Homo sapiens: one gene and its partner. The protein of the gene in region 2 interacts with the protein of the main gene of each other region in a biochemical or structural test. Each region holds a gene or a part of one and is shown on either strand. Other genes may lie near its edges. The genes, in order: VCAN and HAPLN1.

Region 1 (3,832 bases), 190 kb from region 2:
CACTCATTTAGAAGACTTGGAGTCAGTCTCAGCATCCACAACTGTTTCCCCTTTAATTATGCCTGATAATAATGGATCATCCATGGATGACTGGGAAGAGAGACAAACTAGTGGTAGGATAACGGAAGAGTTTCTTGGCAAATATCTGTCTACTACACCTTTTCCATCACAGCATCGTACAGAAATAGAATTGTTTCCTTATTCTGGTGATAAAATATTAGTAGAGGGAATTTCCACAGTTATTTATCCTTCTCTACAAACAGAAATGACACATAGAAGAGAAAGAACAGAAACACTAATACCAGAGATGAGAACAGATACTTATACAGATGAAATACAAGAAGAGATCACTAAAAGTCCATTTATGGGAAAAACAGAAGAAGAAGTCTTCTCTGGGATGAAACTCTCTACATCTCTCTCAGAGCCAATTCATGTTACAGAGTCTTCTGTGGAAATGACCAAGTCTTTTGATTTCCCAACATTGATAACAAAGTTAAGTGCAGAGCCAACAGAAGTAAGAGATATGGAGGAAGACTTTACAGCAACTCCAGGTACTACAAAATATGATGAAAATATTACAACAGTGCTTTTGGCCCATGGTACTTTAAGTGTTGAAGCAGCCACTGTATCAAAATGGTCATGGGATGAAGATAATACAACATCCAAGCCTTTAGAGTCTACAGAACCTTCAGCCTCTTCAAAATTGCCCCCTGCCTTACTCACAACTGTGGGGATGAATGGAAAGGATAAAGACATCCCAAGTTTCACTGAAGATGGAGCAGATGAATTTACTCTTATTCCAGATAGTACTCAAAAGCAGTTAGAGGAGGTTACTGATGAAGACATAGCAGCCCATGGAAAATTCACAATTAGATTTCAGCCAACTACATCAACTGGTATTGCAGAAAAGTCAACTTTGAGAGATTCTACAACTGAAGAAAAAGTTCCACCTATCACAAGCACTGAAGGCCAAGTTTATGCAACCATGGAAGGAAGTGCTTTGGGTGAAGTAGAAGATGTGGACCTCTCTAAGCCAGTATCTACTGTTCCCCAATTTGCACACACTTCAGAGGTGGAAGGATTAGCATTTGTTAGTTATAGTAGCACCCAAGAGCCTACTACTTATGTAGACTCTTCCCATACCATTCCTCTTTCTGTAATTCCCAAGACAGACTGGGGAGTGTTAGTACCTTCTGTTCCATCAGAAGATGAAGTTCTAGGTGAACCCTCTCAAGACATACTTGTCATTGATCAGACTCGCCTTGAAGCGACTATTTCTCCAGAAACTATGAGAACAACAAAAATCACAGAGGGAACAACTCAGGAAGAATTCCCTTGGAAAGAACAGACTGCAGAGAAACCAGTTCCTGCTCTCAGTTCTACAGCTTGGACTCCCAAGGAGGCAGTAACACCACTGGATGAACAAGAGGGCGATGGATCAGCATATACAGTCTCTGAAGATGAATTGTTGACAGGTTCTGAGAGGGTCCCAGTTTTAGAAACAACTCCAGTTGGAAAAATTGATCACAGTGTGTCTTATCCACCAGGTGCTGTAACTGAGCACAAAGTGAAAACAGATGAAGTGGTAACACTAACACCACGCATTGGGCCAAAAGTATCTTTAAGTCCAGGGCCTGAACAAAAATATGAAACAGAAGGTAGTAGTACAACAGGATTTACATCATCTTTGAGTCCTTTTAGTACCCACATTACCCAGCTTATGGAAGAAACCACTACTGAGAAAACATCCCTAGAGGATATTGATTTAGGCTCAGGATTATTTGAAAAGCCCAAAGCCACAGAACTCATAGAATTTTCAACAATCAAAGTCACAGTTCCAAGTGATATTACCACTGCCTTCAGTTCAGTAGACAGACTTCACACAACTTCAGCATTCAAGCCATCTTCCGCGATCACTAAGAAACCACCTCTCATCGACAGGGAACCTGGTGAAGAAACAACCAGTGACATGGTAATCATTGGAGAATCAACATCTCATGTTCCTCCCACTACCCTTGAAGATATTGTAGCCAAGGAAACAGAAACCGATATTGATAGAGAGTATTTCACGACTTCAAGTCCTCCTGCTACACAGCCAACAAGACCACCCACTGTGGAAGACAAAGAGGCCTTTGGACCTCAGGCGCTTTCTACGCCACAGCCCCCAGCAAGCACAAAATTTCACCCTGACATTAATGTTTATATTATTGAGGTCAGAGAAAATAAGACAGGTAAGTCTTTGCTTTCTAGACTAGCATTGAAGGCAATCCTCATTTTATCTTGAAAGTTACTTTTGGGGAAAAAAAGTCAACATACCAAATGCTGCTATTAGAAGATAACTGGAGTGTGAAAAATAAATGTTTTAGCTTCATATATTTGTACAAGAATTGGAAGAATATGTTAAACAATGTGGAAGAATGTTAGATACAATTTTATGTTAAAAGTCATAAGAAGCCCTGCTTTGTCATCTAATATAACCAAATCATCACTGTTACATCACTTCAAAACATGCAGAACAAAGTGTTTTAATTTCAGTGTCTTTTCATACATTACTACTCAAGTGTAGCACTAGACTGTGTTAACATTCCATTGGTCTTTAACTATTAACCTTCAGTACTTACAATGTGGACGGCTAAAATCGTTTTGCATATCCCTAAGGTTGACAGAAAGATATTTAAAGGTTTGCTTTGGTTTTTCTCTTCCAGGATTTTACAGGTTTATTATATGACTTGTGTGGTGGGTAATAGGTCTCTAATGTAAGTGTTATTTTAATGTAAATGCAACATATTCTTATGCTATTGTTTTGGGGTATTTTACTGTGGTTTTATCTATTTAGAGCAAGTACAACCTAGCTTAGTTGTAGGGAGTATTACAGTTTATTGTATTAAATATAATTTCAGAAGGTGGCTATATATTCATTATCCTTGCTTCCTAAAAACCAGGCTGTAGTGTTGTTCATTTTATGATTTAATTGTTTTACCGCTAGGAATATTTGTGATGCCTTCTATTCCACTCAAATATTTTAGCTCTCTGACAGAACTCTTAAAAGCTGTTTGTTTACATTGATTAATACTTGGAGTTGTCATGATCAAATACGATTTATTGCTGTCTAAAGGTGAGCCCACACCATCTTTTACATTTGATAAGCTGAGTTGAGAATATATAGCAAATGCAGTTCAATAAATCAATTCAGGTTTGTCTCTTTCTAGTTTAGAAATTACGATCATGGATTTTAGTTAATTTGCTATATTTTCATTTTCATATAAGAATTAAATGAATGAGTATTCGTTGTTTTCTTGACCTGGCTCTGAGAAGACAGGATAGAAGATTTTTTTTTTTTTTTTTAAGCAGGGTTCTCTCTTACTGTTGGAATATTCCCTTTCGAGTATCATTTTTCTGAAGACTGATGCTATCCTCATTAGAGTGCTCAGGAGTGCACCTATTGGAAACAAACAAGTAGCGTTATTGTCAAGTATGTTTGCATGTAGTGCTGTTGGTGGACACTTCATGGCTTCTATAGGTTTCTACTCTCCAGAATTTTCTGTGTGAAAGCTTTTGCTTGTCAGTGAATAGTAGAGAAGAGAACACACCCACAGAGTATTAAAATTAACCTCCACTTCCCAATGCAGTTTAAAAAGGACAGGATTTGATCATGATTTTCTTGCTAATGATATTGTTTCTTGGAAATCATAACATATTTCCTCTTTTCTACATCCTTTTCCATCTCTCGGAACTGGTGTAGGAAAAAGAAAATGAATTGCCAGTAAGTCGGAATGAGGATTGCGTTAGGCTGGAAAAGAGACAGGAATATAACGGTGAAAGAAAAACAAAA
Region 2 (3,832 bases):
GTGAGACAGGAAAACTGCTCGAGCCCACGAGGCAGAGGTTTCAATGAGCTGTGATCACGCCATGGCACTCCAGCCTGGGCGACAGAGAGAGATTCCGTCTCAAAAAAGAAAAAAAAAGAAAAATAACCAGAGTGGGAGAGGTTGATAATACAAGAGAGAATAGATCTAATAAATAGAGATTTATCCAAGAAAACTGGAGGAAATGAGATCCAGAGCTCGGGGGCAACATCCACACTGGGCTCTTCGAGGTAAAGGAGATTTAAAAAAATATTATTCTACAAAAAGGAAAAAAGAGATAATGCATTGGGGGTACAGACCAGAGGCTAGTTTTAGGCAAGACAGTGAGAGGGTGGCTTCTATTTTCCATGTGAATTAGAGAGGCTTGCACATCTGCTACAGGGCTCAAGAAACAATGGACTTTTAAGAAATATGGTAGAACTGCCATAAAGCATGAAAGATACAGCTGACATCAAATACCATAAAGTTCTAAAGTTGTCCCATTCTGCAGGGTGATATTTACTTTTCTTAGCAGTTCCCAGAAAATTGGAGCAAGTGTGGAGGACGGGGGCAGTTAGATTCATCATGAAAAAAGATTTTGTTTTTTGGATCCCTTTGCAAACAACAGAACAAGGACATGGAGAACGCTGGCAAGCATGATGGACAAGAAAGAAAGAAGTGAAGATGAAAGGGAATGAATAGGTAGGAGGAATGAAGAAAATCTGAGATAAAGATTCCAGTTCACTGCCCTGGACCCGTAGTTGAGAACAACAAATTTTCTAGTTTGGGTGATTGGTACTATAATTATTTTTAAATTATATGTAAGTGACCAGTTTCCTTGGGATGGTCTTTGTTTATGCCTTTTTTGTTATCATGATTAGTAAGCCATCCCCTTTGACTCTTAAAAGTGTTCTGGTTTGACTAACACATTTTATTGTCTTGATATATATAAAGAGAGATGACACGAACTAGGCTTGGTCAAAGGAAAATAATGAGCTCAATTCTGGAAATGTTAAGTTCATGAAGCTATGGGAAATTCAGATTGAAAGGTCAAGTAAACTGAACACACATACAGACACAACTAAATTTATCCATAAAACAAATTCAGACAGTACTGAATAAATTATAATTTAGTGATTGACTCAAGAATGATATACTAATTTGCAGACAGACTCAGAAAATATTTGCATTACATACTTGAAGTTACTTTCTCTGTATTAAATTATACAGCAATTTAGGTAAAGTGAAAATATTAATCATGTAAGGATGAGGAATCATGTTAACATTGACCAAATGGTCAAGCTGGACTTTTACATTGGGTAATACCTCAAAGTGTCACAAGGTGGCAGCACAAGCACAATATAACATGTAATTAACAAGGGTCAAGATCCTTTCAGGTATTCTGCAGTTAGAATTTATACCTGTTGTATATTATATATATTTTTTTCTGAATGTATGGTCCTTAATTTAAAAATGATTATTTTGTTTTATCGTTATTGCTGACTTGAAAATGGAGCACATAAAAAGTTTAATTTTCTAATATGTACATTATTTTAAAATATTTTAGCTAGAATAAAAAACATGATCATGAATATACATTGATGGCATTCTCAGGATAATTATTAGCACATAGTGTATATAATGTCATAGTTATAAATGCTCTGTAAGTTTGCATCTTGATCAGTATATTTTAGATCAAAAATTTTATTTAGATCATCTTTTTAATATATTTATCTCGCTAGTAAAATCTGTGACTTTTTTCATTGGCCTGTAGAAGGAGAGTGTTCAGAAATTTCATGAAAAAATTTTGTTGGCATATTCTAGTTACAGTAACTTTAAGTAGGGGATAGGGTTGTCAGGTTTAGTTAAAAAAATACAGAATATCCAGTTAAAATTGAACTTTAGAAAAACAAGAATTTTTTTTGGTATAAATATGTCCCATGAAATATTGGGGTAATACTTAAAGTTATTGAATGATTGAATTTTTTTTTTGTATTTTATCAAGCAGTCCTATAAGGGGAGGGAGGAGAACCTGGACAAAAAAAAAAAAAGGAAGTTGCTGAGAAGTCCAGAGAAATCCAGGATTATGGACTACAAATCTGACCTAAGATTTAGAAGCCTTCAGAATCAAGGAATTAGAAAACGAATTATAAATAGACTTGAATTAGTCTGCATTCTGTGGCAAACTCATTTATATGGTAAGCTAAACAACATGGGCTATGGTTAATCAAGTACTCTGGTGAATTACCATCTACACCACACATTGATTACTGATTTTTAAACAACAAAATGCAGCAACATATATTTAAAGTTAGTTCGGTATTGGACAAAATGTAATAAACAACTATAATCTAGACATTTTGGGGTCTTACTCAGGGTTATCATTATGAAAATCTGTCATTAGAGCTTCAAGGCACGGAAATACCATTTTAATTTCCTTTAATTCAACAAACATGTCTGGCACCTTCTATATGCAGAGGACTGACTAGGACTGTGAGATGTAAGGATTAATAAACATTGCTGTTATCCAACTGAGTGGATATTTATAGTTAATAAAATAAAAAGTTAAATTCATGCATTAATCATGTCAAAACTCATTCTTACTAATTCTTCCCTGGGTTTCAGTTCTTGGTTAACTGCTTCTCCCTTAGTATATCCCTGGGATGATCGATCCCTTCTCTCTTCCAGATGATTTTCAACTACCATTTTAATGCCAGAGTCTTCCAAATCTCCATTTCCAGCCATGACTTCTCCCATGTACTTAAGAAATGTGCATTCAACTCCTATGAGTTTTTGGCTGTCCTGTTGGCACTTCTTCCTAAATTAGACTAATCATTTTCTCCCAGAAACTTCTATTCTTCCTATATTCCTAATCTTAGTCAATTGCATCCCTCCTCAGGTAATCATCCATCCTTAAAACAGTCACACTATCTCAGACTTCTCGTCCACATCCAGTCAATGCATCCCATTCAGTCATGCCTACGCTGTTTTGATGACCTCTGAATGGGTTTTCCACCTCCAGTCTTGCTTTCCTTAGAGATTTACTGAGATTAACAATTAATTTTATTTACATGATTAATTTTATACTGTAGTGATTATCATTTACATCTTAAAAGAGTTTATAAATTTAACAACATTGCTGGGTAAGAAGAGACATAAGGAAACAAAAACAGAGCTGGGGAACGGTTTGGGTTTGGAGGTATTCAGACATCTGAAATATAGGCACTTGGGATAGAAAGTCAGGACACCCCCGAAGCCCCATGTTCTGCACTGTGCTGGACACCAACAGCGGCAACAGGATGTCAGGCATTCGTATCTCCAAGCCAGCTGAATAATGCAGGCTAATGACCCCTCTCCTCTAGGCTACTGGAAAGACACGAAAGGAAATCACCTCTCTAAATCAGGGTCATCAGTCCTAGAAATTTAATAGGCTGTGAGCACATCTTTATGTTGTAAGACCAGAACAATAGCTTACAAGAGCACCAAACGATGGTAGCATAATCTAATGGGGTATAATAAAAAAAACTACATAAATTAATGAAATACTTAATAAAATATGGCTATGATTATGCTAATTAAACATAAACTGAGAAGATATTTAAACAAATGACTCTGATTCATGTCACTTTTATAAAGCCAAAGCAGATTTTCACTGTTTTCTTTTTTTTCATAGTTTTCCAGAAGCTATGATCAGCATCAACACTGAAATGTCTCTGAAACCAATTTTACTGTACTTACATACCTGAGAAAATATTTTTAAAAGATGTTGGCTTTGACCCGTATTTTCAACATGATGGCTGATTCCTGTGCTTCTCCTATGCATATTCCTTTTTCA

What was found.
Region 1: the proteins of HAPLN1 (region 2) and VCAN form a complex in vitro, tested with the Homo sapiens proteins (one study listed by BioGRID).

What each region holds. Positions count from the first base shown.
Region 1 is NC_000005.10:83,520,079-83,523,910, forward strand, and holds part of VCAN (versican core protein isoform 1 precursor), read left to right. Parts: coding exon 1-2,231; intron 2,232-3,832. UniProt on the Homo sapiens protein: May play a role in intercellular signaling and in connecting cells with the extracellular matrix. May take part in the regulation of cell motility, growth and differentiation. Binds hyaluronic acid.
Region 2 is NC_000005.10:83,710,850-83,714,681, forward strand, and holds part of HAPLN1 (hyaluronan and proteoglycan link protein 1 precursor), read right to left. Parts: intron 1-3,832. UniProt on the Homo sapiens protein: Stabilizes the aggregates of proteoglycan monomers with hyaluronic acid in the extracellular cartilage matrix.